Linked DNA regions of Homo sapiens: region 2 is linked to region 1. A link means that fine-mapping ties the variant in region 1 to the expression of a gene that starts in the linked region. Tissue or cell type: whole blood. Region 1 holds a variant in brackets; the other region holds the start of a gene. All regions are shown on one strand. Distances are between the middles of the regions.

The links. PIP is the estimated chance that this variant, and not a neighbour inherited with it, causes the effect.
Region 2: TBC1D22A starts here. The variant in region 1 is fine-mapped to the expression of TBC1D22A in whole blood (TOPMed, PIP above 0.99).

What each region holds. Positions count from the first base shown.
Region 1 is chr22:46,790,808-46,798,982 of GRCh38, reverse strand. It overlaps TBC1D22A (TBC1 domain family member 22A), which reads right to left. Exons shown (of 13, transcript NM_014346.5): 2 at 6,407-6,463; 3 at 5,142-5,482; 4 at 1,363-1,539. Among named protein-coding and RNA genes, the nearest start is that of TBC1D22A, 32 kb to the right of the region's middle. RefSeq lists enhancers at 166-666, 7,383-7,492. The variant T/C (reference allele first, on the strand shown) is at 3,531.
Region 2 is chr22:46,758,100-46,766,274 of GRCh38, reverse strand. It overlaps TBC1D22A (TBC1 domain family member 22A), which reads right to left and starts at 3,625. Exons shown (of 13, transcript NM_014346.5): 1 at 3,427-3,625. The coding sequence starts at 3,488. It overlaps TBC1D22A-DT (TBC1D22A divergent transcript), which reads left to right and starts at 3,747. Exons shown (of 1, transcript NR_186691.1): 1 at 3,747-4,364. RefSeq lists enhancers at 1,908-1,957, 1,978-2,057, 2,098-2,167, 3,098-3,177, 3,878-4,007 and 1 more and a silencer at 2,918-2,977.

The DNA.
Region 1 (8,175 bases):
TCTAGCCAGGAGACCTTCCAAGAGCCCTCCCCCGCCTCGAGAACACAGCTTCAGCCATGCCCTTTGAACCGCTGCTTCTGCCCGGAAACCCTCTCCCTGCCCTGGGCTTGAGCGTGAAGGCCCGGCTGCTGCAAGCTCCTATATGGCCCCTGCATGGCTCCTGCGTGGCTCCTGGCGGCCCATCCGCGTGCGCCACTCGCCACCTCCTGGCCAAGCCAGGCGTTGCACCTCTGGCTCTTAGAGTGCCACAGTGACACCAGTCATAACTGTGTGATACAGGTTTGTCCCCTCAATGAAGCAATCTCATGACCAAGGCCACATTCCGGTCCTCCCGAGAGCTCCAGCGTCTAGCAAACACCTAGCCAGAGTGGCACTCCACAAAGATGAGATAGGGAAAGGAAGGACGTGGATTCAGCAGGAATTCCACCAGAGGAACTGAAAGCAAGTGCGTTCCACAGAGCCTGGCCACGGCAGTCCACATGGGCACTGCGTGTGCCTGGAAGCAACTCGCGCAGGAAGAGTCACACTGGTGACTGTGCTCTGCCCTGTGGGCCTGCCCCTCTGCCCCAGCCTCACCCCTGCCCCCTTGCAGGGCTCACAGCCTGTCACCCTCTGATGACTGCAAGCCCCATGGTAGGAAAGTACAAAACCAGCAGATTGAGTTGATGGTCACCAGCGCTGTGCCCCCATGAGCCACTGTCTTCAGAATACTGTCAAGAACAAGGATGTCCACCTGGCCAGCCTCGAAGGGCTCACCAAGGGCAGCAATAATAAAGAGTGCAAATGGGACAACAGGAAAACAGAATGGGCCAGGCGTGGTGGATCACGCCTTAAGCCCAGTGCTTTGTGAGGCTGAGGCAGGAGGATCTCTTAAGCCTAGGAGTTCAAGACCAGCCTGGGCAACACAGGCAGACCCGTATCTGTAGAAAAAATTGTTTAAAAAATCTGGTGAGCATGGTGGCACAATCCTGTAGTCCCACATACTCAGGAAGCTGAGGCAGGAGGATTGCTTGAGCCCAGGAATTCCAGGTTGCAGTGAGCTATGATCACACCACTGCACTCCAGCCAGGCAACAGAGTAAGACCTTGTCTCAAATTTTAAAAAAAGAAAACAAAAAGGAACGCAAAATACATTTTCAAATTGCATGGGAAAAACATTAACAAAACTTGTCTAAAGCACAAATTGCTACTACCTTAGTGACTGACTTGAAAATATTACATGAAAACATCACCTTCCTGCAAGGCAAATTACACACGGACGCGTGTGCATTACATAAGCATACATAGAATCCTTTAAGATGTGATCTATTTCAGAAACAGCAAGAAATGTCTGTGTGTGTCCTCCAGAGGGCAGGGTGCTTACCAAGGTCCGTGTTGGGGCCGGCAAGCAGCTGCTTGAACTTGTCGAGCCGGGAGGCCTCTCTTTCGCTCAGCGCTGAGCTGCTGAGAGTGCTGGGGTCAGATGTGCCACCCAGCGTGACGGTGGCCGAGTGTGGGAGAGACTGGGACCTCTGCAGAGGGGCGGCATCGCTGGCACTTTCTGCAGGGGTGAGAGAATGGGGGTGAGGGTGAGGGCGCTCCTCCCGACTACACGTTCCTCCTTGCTGTGCCACTGTCCCTTTGTGAATGCTGATGGGTCCCTTCTTCCCATCACTCAGCAGTGGGGACCTTGGTTTCTTGAGCAATAACATGGAACTGACACCTTTGAAATTCACTCGCTTCACTGGCAGAGTATTATTCACCAACAAAATGGACCACCTTGCATAAAAGCAACACAATGACAGCCAGAAAACTCCAGGGCCCCTCGGGCTGTGTGGAGGTCAGGCTCCCACCAGTGCCTGGGGTGGCAGATCAGGGCCTGCCCAGGTGACATGACCCAGAGGGTCTGTGTAGGACGGTGCCCTCGGGTCAGCCAGGCCTGAGTGCGGAGGGCAAGCCCGTGAGTTACCATGAGGGAAAGGAGAAAGCCTGCAGAGGTGCTGAGGACAGAAGGCAACAGTGGGGACACAGCAGGAACCAGGGCGCTGCGAGGGCTCTCACCTGCCATCTCAAGAGCGTGCCCAACCCCGCCACCTGCCTGGCCCTCCTGGGTCTCACCAGTGCCCTGGGAGGAAGGTCCCACAGGGACCCTCATCCCAAGGAAACAAAGGAAGCCAGACAGGTGAGGGATGGCACCTTCCCAGACCCCACCACAGGCAGTGACCGCAGTGGCACTAGAGTACAAGCTGCCCGCCCTCCCTCCCGCCCTCTGCTGCTGCCCACCATGGCCCCACTGACCCCCAAGACGGACAGGCCCAGGGGGATCCAAGCAGGTGGTGAGACAGCACGTTCCACCCAGCAACCCGGGACCGGGTCAGCCCAAGGGAAGACCCTAAGGCCCTCAGATCACTCAACACTGCCATCCGAGACCAACAAGCAAGAGGCTGGGAAAGGCTCCAAACTCCTGGGTCTAAATCCTGTCTAGCTATCTCATTTTTCAAAAACTGAAAATTAAAGTAGAGTGAAAAATAAACTCCAGGAAATGGAGCCGAAGCAAACGCTGCAGCTGACGGGCCGACATCCACTCCAGCAGCCGCTGAGCAAGGAGGTAGGAGCCGCACTCCCCCGCGCCCTCCTTCCCACAGAGCACCCCCATTTCCCTTATAACCTGGGAGTGGGGGAAAATAATTCACACAGAAACCCTCAGGCTATCCAGGAGCCAGGCAACCTATGGCCTCTGGGCAGAATGTGGCCCAGTTAAATTTCCAGAAAAGTCTGCTAAAGTGGGGACATAGACTTCAGAGTACCGCCCTGTCTCCTCCCCCATCCCCGCTGCCCACTCTCCCTGACTCCCCCCAACCCCCAGGAGGATCTCCTCCCACCAGCCTCAGTGCCCTTGCAGTGATTCCTATTTTGTAGCAGCCGCACACCAAGCAGTGGGCTGGGGCTCCAGCCCGGGGCGTCTGGCTCCAGAGTTTCCGCTGCCGGCCTTACTGCAGACAGGGCTGAGAACCAGCACCTGAGCAGAGGGGAGGACCATGGGTGACAGTGCCCCCTCTCCCTCCTTCAGAGGCTCCTGCTTCAGCAGCACTTACAGTTCCTCAGAGTGAATATTCAGCAGGAAGAGCAGCTGTGCACTGAGTCCCAGAATTAAAGGTGCTCAGCTGGACTTCCCTGTGATCTTCAGAAATGACTGATGTGGTTTCATCAGGACACGTAAGGGGCCGCTCACTCCTGAGCAGAGCCCATAAGTCCATGTCCTAGTGCTGCTGCAAAGCTTAATGAGTTTAGTATCACAGGGACTTGATACTGTACCTGCCACACAGTAAATGATCAATATATGGTATCATTGTCACTATACTGAAGTACTCAAAAAAAGCTTGCCCAGAAAGCAAACACAGGAAAGGTGGCCAACTCCAAGGCAGGCAAGTGGGAGCACAAGGCAATGAGGTCATGGGCCCCCTTCTCCCAGCGCAAGCTGCCTGCAGCATCCTTTGCTTGGCTCTTCCAGGATGAGGCCATCCCAGGGTGACATCCCAGGGTGACATCTCA[T/C]AGCTCCCCGACCCCAGCTGGTCACAGCCTGAGCCTGCCTCTTGTCAGATCCCCCAGCCACACACCGTGTGGTCCTGCGGTCCTGGCCACTCTCAGCCTGACAGTGCCCTGCATCTTGGGGGTAGGGGGCACGGTGCTGAGAGGCTCACAGAGCTTCAATGTCAGCACCACCCATGAGCAGATGAAGCCAGGGATCCTGCCAACTCCGACTGCCACAGGCTGAAGGGCGCTGCCCAGGACTGGGCCTGCAGAAGGCGGTCAGTGCATGCTTCAGTCAGTCACCAGGTTTCCAAGCCTCCCGCAAAGGCCATCACCAGATTTCCAGTTACGAGTTCAAAGACTTTAAAATTTATTACACTCCAAAAAGAAAACTGATCAAATGAAATCACGCACAGCATTCTCAACTAATGAGAGCTGTAACATTTTAGAAGTTAACCAATTCCTAGAAAGTGGTTTTAAAAACTAGACCTAGGTATGAAACCTAGTTCTCCAGGGTAAAATCAGGCCACCCTAACAATCTCCATCTTCTCAGCTGGAAATGTGGGGAGAGCACCCTAGCCCCCAGAAGACCTTGGAGGGAGGTACCTATGAGGGCCAGTGGCCAATCCAGCTGGACTTCGCCCCTGCCCCTCACCCCCTGCCTCCCAACAGCACCACTGACACGAAGACACCCTGACCTCCCCGTTTCAGATGACACCTGCTCCCCACTGCTCTCAGGGCCACCGCGTTCCCACCCCATTCTCTGCCTCTCTTGACCGTGGCACCTGCTGCCTCCCAGCACGCTCTGTGCCCCCTTGCTGACTGTGGGCAGTGCTGCATCTGTCCCTCTCACCAGAATGGACTTGCCGCAGGGCACAGATGTACCTCAGTCTGTCCAGTGGGGTCTCCCAAGCTCTGAAAACAGTACCCGCGGCCCACAGTGGGTTCATCGCACAACCATGCAGCTTTTCCATCACAGACGTGATGGCCTGCAACACATAAAGAGCAGCAGCCACAGAAACAGCCTCAAGAACAGCTGCTGCACACCAGTGCCATGCACATGGCACCAGACACGACCCCACCCGAGGGGGTCAGAGTGCAAACGTGGCCGACCCAAAAGTCAGACTCCCAGCCCCTACAGACCTGAGCCCACGTGTACGCACACCTGGCAGGAATCCTGTAAGCTGCCTAGAGGGCCAGCCCCTAAACATGCAGAGGCCTGACCCCTCGGCTGGCAATGTCACCCATGGAACCATCACAAGCTGGTGGAGTTAGGAGGGAGACAGTGTCCCCAGGCGCTTGCTCCCCCGTGGCCCTCTCACGGCCAGCCCACAACAGCCTGGTGCCTCCACTCCACTCGGAGAAGACATGCACGTAGCTAGGCCAGAAGCCTCCACTCCACTAGGAGGAGACACGCACGTAGCTAGGACAGAAGAAAGCACTTGGGGGCCCTAGGAAAGAGCGCAGGCCACTCCCCTACCCTTGGAAGAGAACCATAAGGGCTCTCGTGGGCCAGGGGGCCTGCTGCAAATGAGGATGGGAACCCACTGATTCTCCCACAGTGAGTGTGTTCTGGCCACTTTCTTAGCTTGGCCAGAAACCCAGACCATCTCTTCAGTCCTCCCATCGTACCTGCAGGACAGGACGTGTGGCTCTCACTGACCGACTTCACCAGCCGGAGGTCGCCGCTGGGGGGTGAGGGCGGCTCTGCCTCGGGCCTGGGCTTCTGCTGAAGCCCTGGCCCCTCCTGCAGCGTGGGCCGCCCCTGCCGCTGGCTGTGGTTACGCAGCACACGGTTGGCCGTCTCCATGACCACCTCGGAGTTCAGGCTCTCCGCCGCCATGGCCAGGAGCTCATCGTCGTCCTCCCCAGCGTCCCAGGCATCGCTGGTATTGCTCTCAAACTCCTGGAAGGTGCTGACCCTCTTGGCCTTCACTGGTGTGGTCGGCATCTTGGCCGTGGACCTGAGCAAACTGCAATGCAAAGGCAGTCTTTACTCGTACATGCTCGAAGGCTTCACCCAAAACCAGCCAGGAAAGAATTCCCAGGTGAAAAGACAGGCATAGAAGTGTTCAGCTTTGATCTAGCAATAGTGAGTGAAAAAGCAAACACAATTCACAGAGACAGCCAAAAGAAGAGCAGGCGAAGCCCATGAGGACTCAGTGGCAGGAGGGGGAGGGGGCTCCAGGAAGGTCACCTGGGAGGAGGCGCAGGGCCACATGGTGATACCCTGCAGGACCACCCCAGCTCACTCTGGCCAGTGCCTGGGGCACCTTCCCCGAATCCCAGTAAGGCTCCTGCCCAGCAGTGAGGGGTGTGGGCCAGGAGCGCCTGTGCAGGGTGCAGGCCTGTGGTATATGGATTTGAAGACATGATCATTTAAACAAGATTCCCCCAAAATAGGACAACACACAACATCGGCCCCACCTCACGTGAGAAACTTGTCAGACAGGTGCAGTCCTGCAGGGTCACAACAGCCCAGCACAAGCCCCACACTCTGCGCTCCCGCCTGCTGTGGAGGGGCCAGGACAGGCCAGGGCCGGGCTCCAGCAGCTGGTGGAGAATGCGGGAAGGAGGAGGGGAAAGGACAAGCCAGCATGGATGGCCTGCAGCCAGGCTGCCCATGGCTAAAGGATGCCAGCTCCTGGCTCTCCCCAGGGCTCCCCCACCTCCCCACATCAGGCTGTGGCTCCCACATCCGCCGTCTTCACCGGGATGCGCAGCACGGGGTGCACAGTATCTCACACAAAGCGACTGCTTGATCAGTGTGGCTGAATGAGAAACCAGTCTCCTCCCTGAGGAATGCCTGGGAGCAGGAAGGAAGCAGGAAGACCGGGGTTGCCACAGCCCTCCCATATCAGAGCCGAGACGCCAAGTGAGGTTGGAACGTCACTTACGTGCCATGTAACAGTGGATCAAAGGGGGGGTGCTGGGCACCATACACGTGCTGGATGCTGATGGAAAAGAAAAGGAAAACCAGTGAGCCTCTCTCCTGCCTTCCCAAGAGCCCTCCACCAGCTCAGCCGAAAGGTGGGCTCCCAGGAACCCACAGGACTGAAGGAAGCAGCTCCTCATGGGCTGTCGCAGGCCCCCCTGCAGCCACCCGGGGTCCTGAGGGCCCAGTTCAGAAGGGATGAGTGGCACCATACAAGCCCACACCCCACACCCCACACAAGCAGGGCATTCAGCCCATCCCTGAGAATGGACCTCAGCCCGACAAGCACCACCACAGACCCTCGGGCATCTACACGGTGATGAGGGTGTCTGGGAGTGCAATGAAGGAACTGAGGCCTCTGCCCACAGACTAAAAACTCGAAGAAACGCCCACCTGGGAATTCTCACCTGCCATCATTTTGTCTGAAATTGAATGCAGAATTGCAAAAGATAAATATAATTTTTTAAAAGATTGAACAGGCTTGGCACGGTAGCTCACGCCTGTAATCCCAGCACTTTGGGAGGCCAAGGCGGGCGGATCACCTGAAGTCAGGAGTTGGAGACCAGCCTGGCAAACATGGTGAAACCCTGTCTCTACTAAAAATACAAAAATTAGCTGGGCATGGTGGTACATGCCTGTAATCCTAGCTACCGGGAAGGCTGAGGCAGAAGAATGGCTTGAACCCTGGAGGCGGAGGTTGCAGTCAGCCGAGATCGTGCCACTGCACTGCAGCCTGGGTGACAGAGCAAGACTCCATCTCAAAAAGAAAAAGACTTAACAGTTTTACTATAAAAGTCTTACATGCATCAGAGTAAATTTGGAAAACTGATGGAAATGAAATACCCCACGTGGCAGACACTGTTGGTTGACTCATCAACCTCTACCCAGAAGCCTTTGCTCCTTTGGCTGACGTCAGCCACGGCTGGCCCTGTGACACACATTTATTTTTCATAGCCGGCAAGAAATAAATGCTGGTTTTTACTTTTCTGGAAAAAAAAAAAAAAAAACAGGCTTAGCTAGCACCCCTTTGGCCCCCAGCTTCTTTCCCTTTTTTCCACCTGGAACACAGAGGTGAGGCCTCAGCCATCGTGCGTGAGTGAAGATGCCACCATGAAGGGCAGCAGGGCAGACAGGCAGGAAACAGCATGGGGCTGTGACAGCTTTGAGCTGCTGCCCAACCCTGCGCTGCTCACCACAGACTACCAGACACAGGAAATAAACGAATCTCTGTTTGTTGAAGGCAATACTGGCAATGTTGGGAGGCCGAGGTGGGCGGATCGCTTGAGCTCAGGAGTTTAGGACCAGCCTGGGCAACATGGCGAAACCACGTCTGCACAAAAAAATACAAAAAAATTGGCTGGGCGTGGTGACATAAGCCTGTGGTCCCAGCTACTTGGGAGGCTGAGGTTGCAGTGAGCCAAGATTGCACCACTGAACTCCAACCTGGGTTACACAGTGAGACCCTGTCTCAAAAAAATAAAATAAGTGATTACAAAAAAATGGCCGGATGATCGCTTGAGCCTGGGAGGTGGAGGTTGCAGTGAGCCAAGAATGCACCACTGCACTCCAATCTGGGTTACAGAGTAAGACCCTGTCTCTAAAAAATAAAATAATATAGTGATTACAAAAAAAGTAATAAAGATATTTGGAGACAAATATTTGCACACAACTATGATAACCTCTTGGGGATAAACTCCTAGAAATGGAAAGCTTGGGACATAAAGCACACAT
Region 2 (8,175 bases), 33 kb after region 1:
CTGTAATCCCAGCACGTTGGGAGACCGAGGCAGGAGGATCACAAGGTCAGGAGATCGAGACTATCCTGGCTAGCACGGTGAAACCCCGTCTCTACCAAAAATATAAAAAATTAGCCAGGTGTGGTGGCAGGCGCCTGTAGTCCCAGCTACTCGGGAGGCTGAGGCAGGAAAATGGCGTGAACCCGGGAGGCGGAGCTTGCAGTGAGCCGAGATCGCACCACTGCACTCCAGCCTGGACAACAGAGTGAGACTCCGTCTCAAAAAAAATACACACACACACACACACACACACACACACACACACACACACACACACATAAATTAGCTGGGCGTGGTGGCCAGTGCCTATAATCCCATCTACTCAGGAGGCTGAGGCAGGAGAACTGCTTCAACCGGGACCCAGGAGGTGGAGGTAGCAGTGAGCTGAGATCATGCCACTGCACTCCAGCCTGGACTACAGAGAGAGACTCTTGTCTCAGAAAAAAAAAAAAAAAAAGGAGGAAAACAAGGCCAGGCATGGAGGCTCACGCCTATAATCCCAGCACTTTGGGAGGCTGAGGTGGATGGATCACCTGAGGTCAGGAGTTCGAGACTAGCCTGGCCGACATGGCGAAACCCCATCTCTACTAAAAATACAAAAAAACAGACAGGCGTGCTGGTGGGCGCCTGTAATCCCAGCTACTTGGGAGGCTGAGACAGGAGAATCACTTGAACCTGGGAGGCAGAGGTTGCAGTGAGCCAAGATCACACCACTGCACTCCAGCCTGGGCAACACAGTGAGACTCCATCTCAAAAAAAACAAAAACAAAAACAAAAACAAAAAAAGAAAGAAAACAATCATGGGAAACAATTGAAAGAGCTGCCAAAGCCACAGGAACCTGGCTAGGATCTCCACTAGCACTGTGCTTGCATAGGTGTGGACTAAATAAATACGCAGCTAGTGACCAATCACCACTACTGATAGGAAAACGGGCACCCCTCTGTGACTCCTCCTTCAGGGAAGAGTTCCAGCCTGCCACCTGAAAGAGCAGCACTGCCAGAGGCTTGAGCCACAAGACGGATGGGAGACACAGAGGCTTCACAGGCCTTCCTGGTGCACCCAACCTCTCCTTCTTCTTCTGCCCTCTTCAGTGACAGCCTCGAACTCTCCAAGACTCCAACTTCACAAAGGTAATACAGAAGCTGCTCTCAAAAGTGCCTAAGACACAGAATAGCATCAAAGTCAGAGGAAAAGGAAAGCTGGTGTTCGGTATTTCAGGTTCACACAGAAGAAAGCTGGAGACTGTATTAGTCTCCTGTGGCTGCCATAACAAATTACCACCAACTGAATGGCTTAACACAACAGACACTTATTCTCTCTCAGTTTTAAACGCCAAAAACCCAAAATCAAGTGGTCATCTGCAGGGCCATGCTCTCTGTCAAGTCTCTAGGTGAGCATCCTTCCTTGCCTCTTCTAGCTTCTGGTGGCTGCCAGCAACCCCTGGCTTTCCTTGGCTTGTAAATGTACTATTCCAATCTCTGTTTCTGTCTCCATAGGGCCATTTCCCTGTGTGTGTCTCTCTGTATTCAAATTTCCCTCTTTTTATAAAAATACTAGTTGACGAACTAAGGCCCACCCTCATCCAGTATGACCTCATTTTACCTTGATTACTTGTGCAAAAACCCTATTTCCAAATGTCACATCCATAGTTTCCAGATGGACATAAATTCAACTCAGTATAAGGACAAATTACCAAGAGCCACAGCCTTCAATCCAAAGGTTGAGTCACTGCTGTAACTCCACACAGCAGCTCTGTTATTCTTACATCTAAGCTGATTAAGAATTAGAGTTTAGACTGATGAGGAACCAAAACCTTAAGACCTAAAAGTAACACATAAAAGTTACACTGTCATGTGGCTCCTCTTCCCTGGACTCTTATGTTCTACAGCATTTGTTCCTGTCACTACCAGGACCTCCTACCCACCACCATTCCAGAATCTTCACTCACCTTGGACCCTGACACTGGTTTTGTTGAAAGGTCTTACTGTTCTCGAATCAAGCACGGTCCTGTGGAGTCGAATAGGGTCTCCGGCCACCTTTGATGACTCCCTTCATTCTCAAAGCCACTGTCTGAGCTGTCAGTAACTCACGCTGCTAACCCCCAGATCACTCTTAAAAGTAAACTTTCCTTTTTTTTTTTGAGACAGAGTTTCGCTCTTATTGCCCAGGATGGAGTGCAATGGAACGATCTCGGCTCACTGCAACCTCCACCTCCCAGGTTCAAGTGATTCTCCTGCCTCAGCCTCCCAAGTAGCCAGGATTACAGGCATGTGCCACCATGCCCAGCTAATTTTGTATTTTTAGTAGAGACTAGGTTTCTCCATGTTGGTGAGGCTGGTCTCAAACTCCTGACCTCAGGTGATCTGTCCACCTCGACCTCCCAAAGTGCTGGGATTACAGGCGTGAGCCGCCACACCTGGCCAAAAGTAAACTTTTCTAACTGGATGCAGTAAATTCCAAAGTTTATCATTCAAACACTCAAACAATAATATTTATTATGAAACAGGAGTACAAACCATTTTACTGTGTTTATGAATGATTCTACTCAGACTTATCTTCGTAACACAATTCATAATTTTCAGCATTCCAGACTTCAGCTTTGGAACAGAACTATGTTCTGAAATCTTGACGTTTGCTTATCTCTGATCTGTTTTCACCAGTGGCTGATTTTATCCTAGGTACCCTCCACGTAATGTCTCATTCCCTAGGGCCCTGGCATAGCTCAGCGCCACAGCAATCAGACAAGGACTCTGGAGCTCTGGAGCTGTATAGCATCTAGGGTGTACCCAGGTCATTCCAGCCGAAGAAAAAAAAAAAAAAAAAAAAAAAAAAAAAAAAAACTTCCTGCTAACACAACATAGGAGGTGGTTTTGACACCAGCAAGCAGAAACATGGAAACTCACAGGGAAACTCTAGTCCTCTTCTATGCTCAAGGCAAGAGCCGCAGCCCTCAAGAGACCACAGGCAAATCAAGTGGGTCAAAAACACCACACCCCCTGCAGAAACTGATCCACCCAGCAGACGGGGGGCCTCAGCCCGGCCAGCTTCCGGACTCCACCAAACTTCACAGCATGACCCGAATCAGTTCCTTCCAGCCTCCCCAAGGAGCCCAGGAGTTTCTCGGAAAGAAGCCTGCCAGTGTCAGGAAAAACGCCAATAGCTCCTCCTCGTCCTTGCAAGCCTCGATCCTACGTGCAGCCACTGTCACCCCCAGACCCCACGCTCCGACCTCCGAGCCCCCCAACGCCCGTCACACCATCCAGCAGTCTCCTCAGAGTCCAAGTTGCCCTCTCCAGACCCCCGACTCCACCCGCAGCCCAGGAGGCCAACGCGGCCACCTGACCTCTGACCCCTGACCCCGACCTGGCCCTCCGCGGCACACCCACCTGCCCGGGAGCTTGCTGTTGCTGCGCTTCCAGAATTGCTTCCTGGCCCCGTCGCTGGCCATGGCCCCTCCTCATCCCTCAGACCCGCGGCCCAGACACCCCGAGTGCACCCGGCCCTCCCCTAGCGGCCCTTTCCTGTGCCCCGGGTGGCCCCTCACTGCTCCCGGGACTCCAGAGCCTAGAGCCGAGAAGCTCTTCCGCCTCCTTCCGGAAGTTGTGCCTACGCGCGCCCGGAAGTCCCGCCTAAGTCCCTGGTGGCGAGTGACGCAGCACTCCGAGCGCCCGTCGTTATTAAAGGGCGACGCCGCGCAACGCACGTTACACGCATCGCGGAGGGAGCGGAGGTGGTTGGGTTTCTGAGTTTGAGTCTGTCGCTCCTGGCTCTCCCGACACAACAGCGGCGCCCACCTGCCCGCAACGGACTCCCAGGAGCCTCGAGCTCCTCATTTCCAAAGCTGAACTGCCCCGTGTCTGATTCCGATTTCTCTTGAGCGCGTTTCGGAGCCGGCCCAGAACAGAGGGAAGCCAGACACACCATACCCGGCCCAACAGTGGCAGGGCGGCTGCGGGTGCTGGTCAAGCTGGGTCACCCGGCACTGAGTGACGATCAGCAAATACTCAGTGGACGAAATATTTGCAGTGCAGTGAGGTGAGGGGCATAACCGCGGAGCGTATTCGAAGAGATGAGAGAGACTGGGGATTAGGCCAGGCTTGAAGGGAAGAATGGTTTGAGCACCGAGGACAAGAATTAATTCCCCAGGCCTGGGTTCCAGCCTTGTGCGGCTATCACGTGCTTGAAACCTGGCTAGTCCGGAGTGAGATGCGCTTTACGTGTAAAATACAGGATTCCAAAGACGTCGTATAAAATAATTTGTATATTGTTTGCATGTTAGGTAACATTTTTAATGTATTGGATTAAATAAAATGCATTAAAATTATTTTTACATTCCTTTTACTCTTTTTAAAATTATTTTTACCTTTTTTATTCTTTTTTTCCGGGGGGGACTGGGGGTGGGTGTCTTGCTATGTTGCCCAGGCTAGTCTCGAACTCCTGCCCTCTAGTGATCCTCCTGCCTCACCCTCCCCAGTAGTTGGAACTGCAGGTGCACACGTTATGACTAGATCTTTTTACTGTGTGTGTGTGTGTGTGTGTGTGTGTGTGCAGAAAATCACTAAAAAAACCGTGTCTGGTTTGCATTACATTTCTGTGCTTCTTAGACCAAAGATTGAATGCTCAGGGACTGTCATTTCAGACTGGAGCTTTAGTGTATTTGGAGCTCCTGCCAGTTCTCTTTTAAAACAAAAATCTAAGACATATTTTCTGATTAAGAATTTCCCTGGAGGCTGAGGCAGGAGAATAGCGTGAACCCGTGAGGCAGAGCTTGCAGTGAGCCCAGATCGTGCCACTGCACTCCAGGCTGGGCGACAGAGCGAAACTCCGTCTCAAAAATAATAACAATTTCCCATGCCTCTTCATTTACTGGTAAGTAACATTGACTTAGTACTTACTATGTGCAAGGCGTCCTACTCTCCTAGAATCCTCTCCTAGTAGGGCTCAGAAGGCCCCAGGGGTCTCCTCCTGACAGAGCCCTGACAGCCTCAGACAGTGAGGTCCCCTACAGACAACACTGAGGACCATGGCGGTTCTTTCCAGCTCAGTCTGGCTTATTGCAAGAACCAGTGAGCGAGGTGACAGCAGGATTAACCTGATGGAAGGGGAAAGGAAGGAAGAACTGAAACAATTGACAGAGGAAAAACTGGCAGCACTTAGTGACTGGTTACACCTTAGATCCGGGTGCTTTTTATAGCTTACCGTATACTTTGCTAGCTACTGTTTTCAGGCGAAGGAGTGAGGCTGAGATTGACTTGAAGGCTTCAAAACCAGCTAAGCAAAGGATTACTAGGATCACAACAGAAACGTGAAGATGGAAAAAGAAAGTCTGAGTAGAAGGCCAGTTTTGAAAGCCAAAGTAATACAGATGTTGGAGTCTACATATGGGACCTAGGAATTGGGACAGATTCTCAAATCCCAGAGGTATGGAATGGAACATTTTTTATTCATTTTTGCAACAAGTATTGAGCAGCAATGCAAATTAAAACTAAGGACATACCATGTTACACTTAACAGATTGGCAAAAACTTAAAAACCTGTCTTTACCAAACTTAATAAGGATGTGGATTTGTGAGCAGAGCAGAACTCTCTTGCACTGCCAGTAGGAGTGTACGTTCATTCACTAACTTTGGATGGCCACTTAGCAATTTCTAGCAAAGATACTCTATAACTTAGCAATTCCACTCTTGGTATGTGCTCTAGAGTACCTTGCCTATGCGTGCAAACACAAGAATGTTCAGTGCAACGTTGCTTCTAGTGGTAGTTGGGGTCTGGGGGAGAAGCAACCAAAATGCCATCTATGGCAGAATCGATAATCTACACAGTTATGCAGTAGAATACCATAAGTTAGTAAAAATGAATACATTAGTTGCATACATCAACATAAATGAATTTTGCAAACTGTGGGGTTGTTTTTGAAATGGGGCTTACTATGTTCCCCCGGCTGGCCACAAAATCCTGGGCTCAAGTGATCCACCTCAGCCTCCTGAGTAGCTGAGTACAGATGCAAGCACTACCGCACCTGACTCCACAGTGTTGAATGAGAAAAAGTTGAATATTAATTCACATGGTATGATACCATTTAGTACTATTTTCTTTTAAAGGATGAGAATGCGACCAGGTATGGTGGCTCATGCCTGTAATCGCAGCACTTTAGGAGGCTGAGGCAGGAGGATCCCTTGAGCCCAGGAGTTTGAGGCTGCAGCAAGCTGTGATCATGTCACTGCACTCCAGCCTTGGCGATAGTGCCAAACCCTATCTCAAAAAAAAAAAAAAAAAACCAGAATGGTAAAAGATAAATTCAGGAGGGTGGTTGCCTATAGGTACAGGTGGGGACTGTGAACAGGAAGGAATTCATTCATAGCGGATCAATTGTGCTATTATGCTTTGTTTCCTAAGGCAGATGGGCTATATTCAGGTGTTGGTTATATTCTTTATGAGTTTTTACATGTATAAAATGTTTCATAATACATTAAAATATAGTTATTGAGTTTGAACTGTGCTATGCACTGAGCTACATTGAACTACATGATAAGGCAAACAAAAGTGCAGCAGGCCAGGCACAGTGGCTCACACCTATAATACCAGTACTTTGGGAGGCTGAGGCGAGAGGATCACTTGAGACCAGGAGATCAACACTAGCCTGGGCAACATAGGGAGACCCCATCTCTGTGAAACTTTTTTTTTTTTCTTTTAGCCAGTCATGGTGGTAAACACTCTTAGTCCTAGCTACTTAGGAGACTGAGGCAGGAGGATCACTTGAGCCCAGAAGTTCAAGGCAGCAGTGAGCTAGGATCACACAACTGCACTCCAGCCTAGAAAACAGTGAGACCCTGCCTCAAAAAAACAAACAAAAAAAAATTGGGATAGTATTTCAGGATGGCTGGATTTGCAATGCCATTTGGGTTCCTCGGGAAGTGTTTTCTGCTTTCTTTGCTTTCAGATGGCCTGCTCCGGGCTTAGAATATCTCTCACAGGACCTTACTGAGTGAGCTGCCACACTCCCACTTGGTGGGTTCTGCCTCCTAAGTTTCCTGGTGCTGTACCGTCCATAGGCACCGAGCCTGTGCCCCAAAGTAAAAAGCTGACTGTTCTATCTGTATTGGTTTCCTAAGGCTGCTGTTGGCAGAATGCTGCAGACTTAGCGGCTGAAAACAATACACATTTACCCTCCTACAATCCTGGAGGTCAGAAGTCCAAAGTCTTAGCACTTCACTGCACTAAACTCAAAGCGTCAGCAAGGCTGCCCCCTTCTGGAGGTTCTAGGGGAGAGTCAGTTTCTTACCTTTTTCAGCTTCTAGAGGCCACTTAACATTCCTTGGCCGACACTCCTTCCTCTGTCTGGAAAGCAGATCACTCTAATCTCTACTGCCATCATCACATCATCTTCTCTCCTTCCGATTCCTCCTAGATCCCTCTGACCTCACGTCAGGCCCACTGGATAATCCGGTCCAGGCTGATCTCCCCATCACCCGGCCCTTAGCTCAATCACACCTGCAAACTCCCTTTGGCCATTTAAGGTAACATTTGCAGGTCCCAGGATTAAGTCCTGGTATATCTTCAGGGGTTCATTATTCAGCCTACCACAATAATAGACGGCATATAGCAAAGGTCCCCAGTTTCACACCGCGAGAGGCAGGCGTCGTCTTCACTGCCCCCTTCCCCAACTCCTTTCAGCCATTTTTATATTACAGGGACTAGCAACGTGCCATTTCCTGACACTAAGTCAGGATGAGTTAGGGTGCTGTTGGTTGCAAGAATGACAAAGTTCAGCTCAAATTAGCTTATACTACAAAGGGAATTAGTTGGTTAATGAAAAAGCCCAGAAGTAGCTCAGAAGGTTTGGAGAAGGGCTGATACAGCAGCTCAACAATGACCCAAGGGGCCTGTCTCCTTCTGTCAGTCTCTTAAGTCTTTGCCAAGGACAACTTCCCCTTGAGGTCACAGGATGCCTCTGTTGGGCCCCTGGGATCATGTGCTTACCTCTAGTCAGGATGCTAGAGAGCAGAAATACTGTGAACTAGTATCAGTCCCCGGGAAGGGAGCACTATACATTGCTTACCAATTCCAGGAGAGCACACTTAAACACCTCACCAATTTCTGCTGAGTTTCCTAAGACTGCCAGGAGGCTTTGCACA